Homo sapiens: one gene and its partners. The protein of the gene in region 3 purifies or fractionates together with the protein of the main gene of each other region. This does not show direct contact. Each region holds a gene or a part of one and is shown on either strand. Other genes may lie near its edges.

What was found.
Region 1: the proteins of CDH8 (region 3) and CTNND1 purify together in Homo sapiens (co-immunoprecipitation; 3 studies listed by BioGRID and IntAct, with this or other methods). This does not show direct contact.
Region 2: the proteins of CDH8 (region 3) and BCAM purify together in Homo sapiens (co-immunoprecipitation; 3 studies listed by BioGRID and IntAct, with this or other methods). This does not show direct contact.

The regions. Positions count from the first base shown.
Region 1 is NC_000011.10:57,764,661-57,768,411, reverse strand, and holds part of CTNND1 (catenin delta-1), read right to left. Parts: intron 1-3,751. UniProt on the Homo sapiens protein: Key regulator of cell-cell adhesion that associates with and regulates the cell adhesion properties of both C-, E- and N-cadherins, being critical for their surface stability.
Region 2 is NC_000019.10:44,818,977-44,821,946, reverse strand, and holds the end of BCAM (basal cell adhesion molecule isoform 1 precursor), read right to left. Parts: intron 2,892-2,970; coding exon 2,755-2,891; intron 2,602-2,754; coding exon 2,457-2,601; intron 2,366-2,456; coding exon 2,221-2,365; coding exon of another isoform or gene 2,217-2,220; exon of another isoform or gene 1,243-2,216; coding exon 1,125-1,242; intron 1,032-1,124; coding exon 1,026-1,031; 3' UTR 526-1,025; downstream 1-525. UniProt on the Homo sapiens protein: Transmembrane glycoprotein that functions as both a receptor and an adhesion molecule playing a crucial role in cell adhesion, motility, migration and invasion.
Region 3 is NC_000016.10:62,034,781-62,038,531, forward strand, and holds the start of CDH8 (cadherin-8 isoform 1 preproprotein), read right to left. Parts: upstream 1,659-3,751; 5' UTR 1,300-1,658; intron 407-1,299; exon of another isoform or gene 303-406; intron 1-302. UniProt on the Homo sapiens protein: Cadherins are calcium-dependent cell adhesion proteins. They preferentially interact with themselves in a homophilic manner in connecting cells; cadherins may thus contribute to the sorting of heterogeneous cell types.

The DNA of each region.
Region 1 (3,751 bases), on a different chromosome or scaffold from region 3:
AAAAAAAAAAAAAAAAAAAAAAAAAGGATGATGTCCACAAATCATACAAATCATTCTGTTTATCTTCCTCCCACTGACACTTCACTTTACTAAAGTTATCCATTCTCATACTACCGTTGTTTTGAACCTCACCCACACAACTCTCCAATATTACCTATTACTAATTTTTTCCCATTAAAAAAATTTAAAAGTTAGCTTTACCCACTCAGGAAGCCCATATATTCTGTAATGCAAGCACCTACATCTACCACAGATTCTCAGGTTTTAAGAGACCTTCGGACGGGCATGGTGGCTCACGCCTGTAATCCCAGCACTTTGGAAGGCCGAGGTGGGTGGATCATTTGAGGTCAGGAGTTCGAGACCAGCCTGGCCAATATGGTGAAACCCCCTCCTCTACTAAAAATACAAAAATCAGCCGGGCGTGGTGGCGGGCACCTGTAGTCCCAGCTACTCGGGAGGCTGAGGCAGGAGAATTGCTTGAACCCGGGAGGCAGAGGTTGCAGCAAGCAAAGATTGCACTACTACACTCTAGCCTGGGAGACAGAGCAAGACTCCGTCTCAAAAAAAAAAAAAAAGACCTTCAAGGGCATTAGTTCAACAAACGAAATTTGAGTTCTTTGAAGCATCCATTCTAATAGCAAACACAAGACATTACTAGGAGCTCTGCATTACTCTATAAAGTTCACATACATTAAATAACTTAAGTGTCACAACAATCTATAAGATGGTTAATATTATCCCCATTTTACAGACAAGGAGGCCAAGGCAGAGAGAGATTAAGCAATTTGCCCTAGGTTACATGTTTCCTCCGTGGCAGTCTAGCTCCCCATCCATACTCTTAATCATTATGTTATGCTGCCTTGCCTCACCATATTATGGAAGTCTCAGATTGGAAATTCCCTTTTTGGTTAGCATATTTACCAAAAAATATAGAATAAAGCATTTGTGGCAACATGTTAACAAATGATACCTAGGCAAATGAAGAGTATACCAGTTACTGTGCTAGAGCAACTTTCCTGCAAGTTTGAAATAAAAAGTTGAGAAGTGCTTTTGTCATCACATCACATCAACCAACCTGGGACATGTTTTGTGAAAGTCATGACCAAATTACCTACTGCTGACCAGCAAGGAAGGCTTTAAGATAAAATTCTGGCCGGGCGCAGTGGCTCAAGACTGTAATCTGGGAGGCCAAGGCAGGCGGATCATGAAGTCAGGAGTTTGAGACCAACCTGGCAAAAATGGTAAAACCCATCCCTACTAAATATACAAAAAATTAGCAGGGCGTGGTGGCGCGCACCTGTAGTCCCAGCTACTTGGGAGGCTGAGGCAGGAGAATCGCTTGAAACCGGGAGGCGGAGGTTGCAGTGAGCTGAGATCGTGCCACTGCACTCCAGCCTGGACAACAGAGCAAGACTCCATCTCAAAAAAAAAAAAAAAGATAAGAAAATTCTTTGCCTCTTTATAATTCCCCCACTATATGCCTGATCTAAATTGTCCACACCACACCAATCAAACTGAAGGGCTCACTGGAGAAGAAGTGGCCCTAAAAACAGGGAACACGATCCCTGAATAAAGTGGTAAATTCAGGCCCCATTCTCAATGCTTAATATTTAATAATAACATGCAATTCCAAGTAGAATTAGGGAAAAAAATTACTTCCGAAAAATACATTAAACAATTAAATACAAATCAATCCATACCCTAATTTCCCCCTCATTAGTTCTAACCAGAACAGTTGTTCTTGCCTTCTTACAATCTCCCTGCCAGGCTACATCAATGCTCTATTGGAAACCTTGGAGGCAGCTGCATAATTTAGGCAGAGCAATCCCTACTTCAGCTTTGTGTGTCATTTAACCCTTCTTTGAGGGAAGAGAACATGAAAGAATATTTGTACTTATTCACATCCTTATTACCTACAGTTCACTCCTGTAGGCAAGTTCCTTGTTAATACCTTTTAAATTACCCAAGAAAACTAATTTCGGTTCTTAAACTCATAAGCTTCCCAATACATGAACAAAATCTAAAGTTTTGTGGCTAAAACAGTGATTTAAAAAATACACTGATATCCAAACATACTTTCTTTGAAACACTGATGTTCAAAACTATCATCCCAAGCTCTTAACGTTTTTATTAACAAGCACAGAAACCATTCACCTCCAACCAGGGCTGAAAGCAGTACTTTTCTGCTGATGTCTTAATATACTCTCCCCTAGAAAATGGCAACATTTAAGGTTTTCAGTGTTGAAGTTCATTATGAAATGAACGGACTAGGATACTTATTATTTATTTATTTATTATTATTATTTTTTGAGATAGGATCTGGCTCTGCAAGCCCAGTCTGGAGGGCAGTGGCATGATCTCGGCTTGCTGCAACCAGTAGCTAGGACTACGGGTACATGCCACCACGCCCAGCTAATTTTTGTATTTTTTGTAAAGAGGAGTCTTCACCATGTTGCCCAGCGATCCACCCACCTGGACCTCCCAAACTGCCGGGATCACAGGCGTGAGCCACCGCACCAGGCCAGATCCTTACTTTTTATACTATTCTTTGTACCACTTGCCAAGAAAGGAACAGGATTAAAGAAAAGCTAAAATTTTAAATCCTCCATTATCTCTAGAAACTTTGCTTAAAAATATAAGGGAGGGCCAGGTGTGGTGGGGCACACCTATAATCCCAGCACTTTAGGAGGCCGAGGTAGGAGGATGGCTTGAGCCCAGGTGTTTGAGACCAGCCTGGACTACATAGAGAGACCCCATCTCCACAAAAATACACAAAAATTAGCCAAGCATAGTGGTGTGCACCCATAGTCCTAGCTACTCAGAAGACTGAGGTGGGAGCACCACTTGAGCCCAGGAGTTTGAGGCTGCAGTGAGCCATGATTTCACCACTGCACTCCAGCCTGGATGACAAGAGCAAGACCCTGTCTCAAAAAAAAAAAAAAAAAAAAAAATTAAGGGAGGAGACGCATAAAAGGTTAAAACTACAGACTACAGTAAAAGTTGCAAAAGTACATTGCAATTTGATTAATCTATGTTGTTTTGCTTCCTTTCAAGCCTTCCCCACAAATCAGTCCCTCACTGATTCTCATCAAATGCCTTATTTAACCAAGGCTTACTGAGCACCTCAGTATGTACCAAACACTAAGACAGGTGCTAAAAAGATACAGAGATAAGACAGTACCTACACCCAAGCTGCTCATAGTCTAGAGGGAAAGACAAGAATATCTGAACTACCTCCTACAAGCCTGTCCCTGCAAGTTGATGATATCCTATCATTCCAAACCACATACCTAACAAATTCTCTGGAAGAAGAAATTTTACTGATAAACAACGTGTGACACAATTCCAGGAAGTTTAAGAAATTAGGACAGCAATGGTGGGCATATGGATATGGAAAGATTCTCGTTCTAAAGATTAAAATAATATCCATTCTAGCACATCCAGCTCCCCATGGGCTCTATGGAAAATAGATCTTTTGCATACATTATCCCAACAAGGGTAGTGGGGAGTTGGAGGGAGTTGGAAATTTAAGTGAGTACTGCCCCTGTGCCAAGATGAAACACTCCTGCCTCTAGCAAGGGCTCGTTTTAGTTCGAGCTGTTGTTTCCATTCTCTCTGGAGAATGGCAGTATATTAGTGGTTAAGTCCATGGACTTTGTAGTTAGTCAGACCAGGGTTAATCCTGGCCTCAACCATTTACAGGCAGTGAGATTTTCACCAAACCTCAGCTTCTCTGAGGGTCAAATTCCTT
Region 2 (2,970 bases), on a different chromosome or scaffold from region 3:
TGGTCTCCCAAAGTGCTGGGATTACAGGTTTGAGCCACTGAGCTTGGCCTCTTTTTGTTTTCTTCTTTTTTTTTAGAGATGAAGTCTCGCTTTGTCACCCAGGCTGGAGTGCAATGGCGTGATCATAGCTCACTGTAACCTCGTATTCCTGGGCTCAAGGAATCCTCCCACCTTAGCCTCCTGAATAGCTGGGACTATAGGCACACCTGGCTAATTTCTGTATTATTAGTATTATTATTTGTAGCGATGGGGTCTCCATATGTTGCCCAGGCTGGTCTTGAACTCCTGGCCTGAAGCCACCCTCCAGTGTCAGCCTCTTAAAGTGCTGGGATTACGGGCGTGAGCCACCACCACTGGGATTACAAGAATGAACCACGGCGCCCAGCCCTGTCTCATTTCTTTCTCCATGACATCAGGCGTCTTCTGAGGTCTTGCAAGGGGGCGGATGGGGGGGCAGCTGAGAGCAGGGAATCACCTGCATCGCCCTTCCCCTCCCTACTCCCAGAGGAAGCTCTGGCCACAGGATGGTGTTGATGTGACAAACAGCATTTATTCCAGACTCCAGTGTCCACAGATGATGGGGTGGGGCGGAGGTAGGGCGGGGGCAGGAGTGGGACCAGGGGCGGGGTGAGGGGGGGGAATCCAGTGTCAGACTCTGCAGCAAGACGTCAGGTGGGGGGACCAGCAGGGGAGGCGGGAGGTAAAAATAGCTCCGGCCAGCCGACCCTCGGAGCCTTGTCCCAGGCTGGGCCTTGGGCTTGGGTCCAGGAGCTATTCTGGGGCCTGGGAGAGTCACATTCCCTGGAGGAAGGCCCCCTCCCACCCACCCACCCTCCCTCTCCTTCCCTCCCGGAGGCAGGCAGCCACTGTGGGTCCCTGCCTTGCCGGCAGAGGAAGGAAGGGAGGGCTGGGCAGGGAGAGGGAAGAGGGAAGAGGGAAGGCGGGGGCGGGCATGGCGTGAGCAGGGCTGGTTCTCTGATGCCTGCAGCTCCAGGTCCAGGGACAGCCTCTAGGAGGTTCTTGGCTCAGCACTGGGGAGCGGATGGAGAGGTCAGCCTGTGCCCACGGGCGTGCTCCACTGCCCAGCAGGTCCCTCTCACCAGGGGGCCCAGGCCCTCACCCACCTCGTCTCCGAAGCCCCCGCTGCCACCCCTGGCTCCTCCGGAGGCACCTCCCATGAGAAGGCCGGTCTGCTCTGGTTGCTCCGACCCCGAGTGGCTCAGCCCTGGCTCCCCTGGCGGCCTGGGGGGAGGAGGCAGCGGGCGGAGGCGTCGTGTTGGAGGTGCACACGGCAGGGGGAGGAACTGAGGATGGGGGTGGGTGGGACTAGGATGCGGCTGGGGATGGAGGTGAGGATGGGGGTGTGCTGGGTGGGGATGGCATAGGGATGGGGTAGGGGCTGGTAATGGCACTGGGGTTAGGGTTGGGCATGGGGATGCAGATGCTATTGGGGTTGGAGGTGGGAATGTAGCTGGAGTTGGCTTTGGGATCGGTCTGGGATGGTTACGGATTGGAGGTGAGGACGGCCATGTGGTTGGGGCTGGAGACAAGGTTAGATGAGGAGGAGCTTGGGGAGGCTTAGGGGTTGGATTTGGAGTCAGGAATGGGGACAAGATTGGGGATGGGGACATGGGTGAAGTTGGCTTCGGGACGGTGGAGGACTAGGGTTGGGAAATGGCTAGGTGAGGGCTGGATGGTGAGAGATAGGCTTGGAGGATAAATTGGAGTTAAGGGTGAGCTCAGGGGGATGATGGGTGTTGGGGCTGGAGGTTGGGGGAGGATGGGGATGTGGCCAGGGCTGGAGAGGAGCTTAGTTGAGGATGGTTTGAAGGGGGTTATGGATTGGAGTTGAGGGGAGATTGGGGGCAGGGTTGGGATTGGAGACAGGCATGGAGTTGGGGATGAGGCTGAGCTAGGGGCAGGAGAGGTGATTAGGGAAGGGGATGGTGTTGAGTTTGGCTTGGGGATGGGTTTGGGGATGGCCCTGGGTTGGGTTTGGGGCTGCAGTTGGGGATGAGGATGAGTTGGGGATGGCTGTGGATTAGTCTGGGGCTGGGTTTGGGGCTGTAGTTGGGGATGAGGATGGGTTGGGGATGGAGGTGGATGTGGTGGGATGTGGGGTGGAGGATAAGATGTGGTTGAGGTTATGGGTTGAGCTTGGGGTTGAGGGTGGGGATGGGGTTAAGCTATGGTGGTCATTGCAGATAGCAGGCCACTCACGGAGCCCCCTTCTCCCGCCGCTGGCGGCAGCAGGGGCCCCCTTTGCGTCTCACGCAGTAGAAGACAGCAACGACGAGGAGCAGGAGGCCCACGCTGACGGCCACGGCCATGACGGCCACTCCAGCCTGGGAGGTCTGGGGGCTCACTGCAGGGACAGGATGGAGAGAGGCGTGGGTCAGGCAGTGGGCTCTGTCTGCCCCACACCCGGCTCCTCTGCCACCACCTCAGTCACTCACCGGTGCCGAAGTGGAAGACATGGCGCTTGTTCCCGTGGGGGTTGGAGGCTTCACAGGAGATGCCATCGCGGCTCAGGGCGCTGGTCACTTTCAGGGTCAGAGAGCTGCTCACCCAACCCTGCCGTCCGGGGATTGGCTCTGCGGGCTATGGAGGCTCCGATCAGGCCCCGGCTGGTGGGGTCAAGGGGTGGGGTCAAGGGCAGAGGTGAACGACGTCCAGTCTCCCAGGAAGTGGAAAGGAGGGTGTGATACTTGGATGAGTGAGAGGGGGCTCAGGGTGGAGAGGAAGGTCCCTTACGCTGCCCCCCAATTGGCTCCAGCTGAGTTTGGGGTCTGGATGGCCGCGGGCAGAGCAGATGAGTGTGACTTCGTCTCCTTCCCTCCAGCTGCCATCTGCCTTGGGCTCTATTTCCGCTGTCTTTAGCTCTGGCGAGCCTGTGGGTGGTGGGGATGGGAAGAAAGTGAAGGGAGAGGAGAGAGAGAGAGAAGAGAGGCATCGAGCAGAAGATGGAGT
Region 3 (3,751 bases):
GATAAGCTCTATCGTTTAATTGGTGCTGAAGTGAGCAGCTGCCAGCCCGATTTTCCATTACGGACTAATATTGTGCGTTTGCAACAATAAACAATTAATGTGGTTTGATTTCTTACATTTAGCAACCCAAGCAAACAGCTGCCATCTCCGCTGGTGGAGGCAAACGGCTAGTCCTTGACATGCCGCCGGCTCCGTGCCTGCGGGGGAAGGGTCAACCGCAAGGAAACTTTGAGGATTCTGCCAGACTGGGTGGGGGAAGGCTCTGGTGTTTGGGAGGAATAAGCGGAGGAAATTGTGGATACCTGTTGGCATCAGCGTTGGCGGCAGCACGTTTTTTTACCGTTTCCCAGCCTTGGCTGGATCCTGGGAGAACCGGAGTAGGTCCCTTATGAACCTCTTACGTACTGGCAGAACCTAGGCAAGAGCCTTTTTCCCTCCGATCCTGCGAGGGGCGCGACCAGCCCCTCAAAGGTTCCCGGATGAGAAGCGGCCAGACCACAGAAAGCGCAGGTCTGGGCTCAGCTGTCCCTAGGAGAGCGGCTACGGAGTCCCCGGCTTAAGGGGGCCTCCGTGCACGCAATCTCGAGTTGCGGGGAGACACTGCCTGGGGGTCCTGCAGGGGTGCTGGGCAGCGTCTTGGCGAGGGCAGAGCCGCAGGGCGACTCCGGAGCCCGGCAAGTTTGTAGCGGGCACCGCACCTCCCAGAGCTGGAGCTGCCACTTGTGGGAAAGCCTCGCGCTGGGGCTTTCGCAGCTGAGCCTTGGCCCGCAGCCCTGCCGCGGGGGTCGCCCTCCCTCGCCTCGGAGATGAGGCGGTGCAGAAAACCAGCCATAGACCACTCGGGCCCCCTCGCCTCCTTTTTTCCCTGGCTTGCACCCTCCGCACAGCGGGCTGCAGGTGCTTCCCATTCACCGCACGGACCCCGCAGTGAAGGCGCGCGGCTGCAGCCGCGCCTGCCTGCGTTGGGAAGCGGCGAAATAGCCAAGTCGCCGCAGGGAAGGAAACCGGCAGGAAAACTGGAGGGGCACAGCCTGGAGCTTGCTACTCTCTAGGATCTGTTGTCAAAGCAGTTTGCAAAAACAGTCAGGCAAAACCTTGAGGCGTACGTACGTTATCACCCACGGATATCGCGAAAGACACAGCTTAGCCCAGAGCCTATGCTAAGAACCCTCATCCACCATCTGAGGGGCAGGAGGCGCGCAAGGTGTCCGAAGGGGCATGGGAATTCCTATAAGAAACGGTCCCTTCTGGATAGTCGGAACATAGAGGAAAACGGGGGTGGGTTAGGGGAACACTTACTCTTGTGGGGCCCTGCGCTGGCGAATGTCAAGCCTCCAGGTTCACAAATGGCTGGAGGTGCTCGGGGTTAGCTCCCGAGGGCGGCAAGCGCCGACCGGTCCTCGCTCGCTAGGCAGGCGCCTCCGGATTCCGTTCATGCCTCTCGGAGCTACAGGGCTTGGTGCGGAGACGCAGGGCGGGCGCGCTGGGCTCTGGGTGTCCGCAACCCAAAGTGCAGCTGGTGTCTTGACGCTACCGTCTATGCACAAGCCGGCGGCGGCGGCGGAGCTTGGAGGAGGCAGGGAGATTCCAAATAAATCCACTAATTCTGGGCTGAGCGCTCCGGCGTGCGAGCCCGCCTGCCTGCCAAATGTAACTGTGAAGTGATGTGGAAAAGTGAGCCGGGTGCCTCCCCTGACGGATCTCATTGGGCAGAGCGCAGAGGCAGGTCTACCACTTGGAAATTCATGTAAGCAGTCCCCCCTCCCCGCCCCCTCCCCGCCTTCCCCCTTCGCTCTCCCGCGCTGGCTCGATCGCTCTCTTTCCCCCTACCCAAGTGGGCGCACAACTTTTCGCTCCTCGCTCCCGAGCAAGCCCCGCGCGTCTCTGCCGCCAGAGCCACGAGGTGAAGATGCGCCCTTCCGCGCGGTGCGCGCAGCCCGCTGAGGACCGAGCTCCTGGATAAGTGGGCTGGCAGATAATAACAGCATGCGGATGAGGTACCTGCGAGCTTTCTCTCTAGAGGTCTCACCTGAGCTCTGGGGCTGGCGTTATGTTGAAAAGCGTCTCAGTGACCCGCAGCTATTTTCCGTAGGAGGAAGAGGACGCGACAGGGCAAAGGGTTGAGCGTGGGCAGCTTACCTCCTCTTTATTCCAAGGGCCTCTTGCGTACAGAATAGGGTGATTGTGAGACCCCTGCCTGCAACTCAGACGCTATGTAGAGGCTGTGTGTCGCGGTTCTGTGATGGAGCGCATTCCTGATGTCCCCGTGCTCCTTTGGGAAAATGGGATGAGGGACAGCAGAGTGGCAGCCAGGAGGGGCGCGCAGTAGTTGGTTGTGGGGAGGAGGGCAGGCAAAGCAGAACTTGCTTGGGAAATAGGGGAGGAATTTCTAGGTCTTCTCAATGTGCCCTGATCTTGTCATATCCTCTCAGATACCATCCTTGCGGTTCTCCTGCCTCCACCAAGACCTGCCCTGTCTGTGGTCACTTCAAGTCTTCTGATGGGCTGCGCTCAGATCTTGAGAAATGGCCACCCTGGGGTAAAAGGGACCATGAATCAGGAGGTCCAGATTTCTTTTCTTTTTCAACACTGGGGCTAACATGTAGACGATGCCACAGTCATCATCTTCTAATAAAATTAGATAAATATAAGACAAATAAATTCTTACCTTAAAAAAAAAAACCCTCCCCTCCACAGGAGATCCCGATTTAGTCCCTTCCCTGTGTGCACTAGACGTGAGCCTGAGGGTGGATTTTACCATCTGGGGACAGAGCAAGAACAGAAGGGGGAAAAAGGTGCAGGGGACAAGACGCACAGTCTGTAGAGCTTGTACTGTCTCACTCAAATTAATGAGAAAGAGTGAACAGAATGAGAAAATAGGCACAACATGCTTATGATATTTATGCAAATTTGACATTTTTTTGTGTGCTGCATCTGACAACCCATTGTGAAATGTGAAAAAGAGTATTGGCTGTAGCTCTAATATCTGATTGTTTCATGTTCTAGCTGTCATAGGCAAGAAACTTAGTGGATTATTTCAGAGAGGGAGAGGTGAAGAGAACCAAGTGGTATTTTTTTTCCCCCAGGCAGTCACTAAGTAACTGTTTGTTCTCTTCTCAGACTGTGTCTGCTTACAGGGTATTGGAATTGGCTAATTCTGTCTTGGAAAAAGGAGCAGCAGTCAAGGCTCAATCAAATTATAACTGCTGCTAGACCAGACAGTCCCAAGTGGACAAAGAAATAGATCACATTTTGGGTTGTGCTTAATTTCAGATATTCATTTTCACTTGAACAAATAATTTGAACCGTTCCTTGGGGTAACTTCTTACATCTATGAAAACTCAAAAAAACTCATGTGCTACTGAAAGCTGGGGATTGTCACAAGTAACAAACTTGTCTCAAAAAAAAAAAAAAAAGCCAGATTGTTAGACAATATCCTCAAATCTCATTTTCTTAACAAACTATGCTGACATAGTAAAGATAGTCAGAATCCAATGGCTTTTAAAGAGAGCCAGAATCCAATGGCTTTGGGTATCTAGGGTTAAGAAGAGTTTGCTTTGACTCATCTTGTCCATATTTACTCTTACAGCAGTTATATACATTGTCTTCCCTGAATTTTGGTCCTCTGGAATTCAGGGTAACCTGTCTATACCTGCTAATATCTGCTCAAAGCGTTACAATAGGAATTTCCTGACTAATTCTTAAGAGAGGTTTGGATGATTAAGCAGTGTGATAGAGGATTAGGATAATG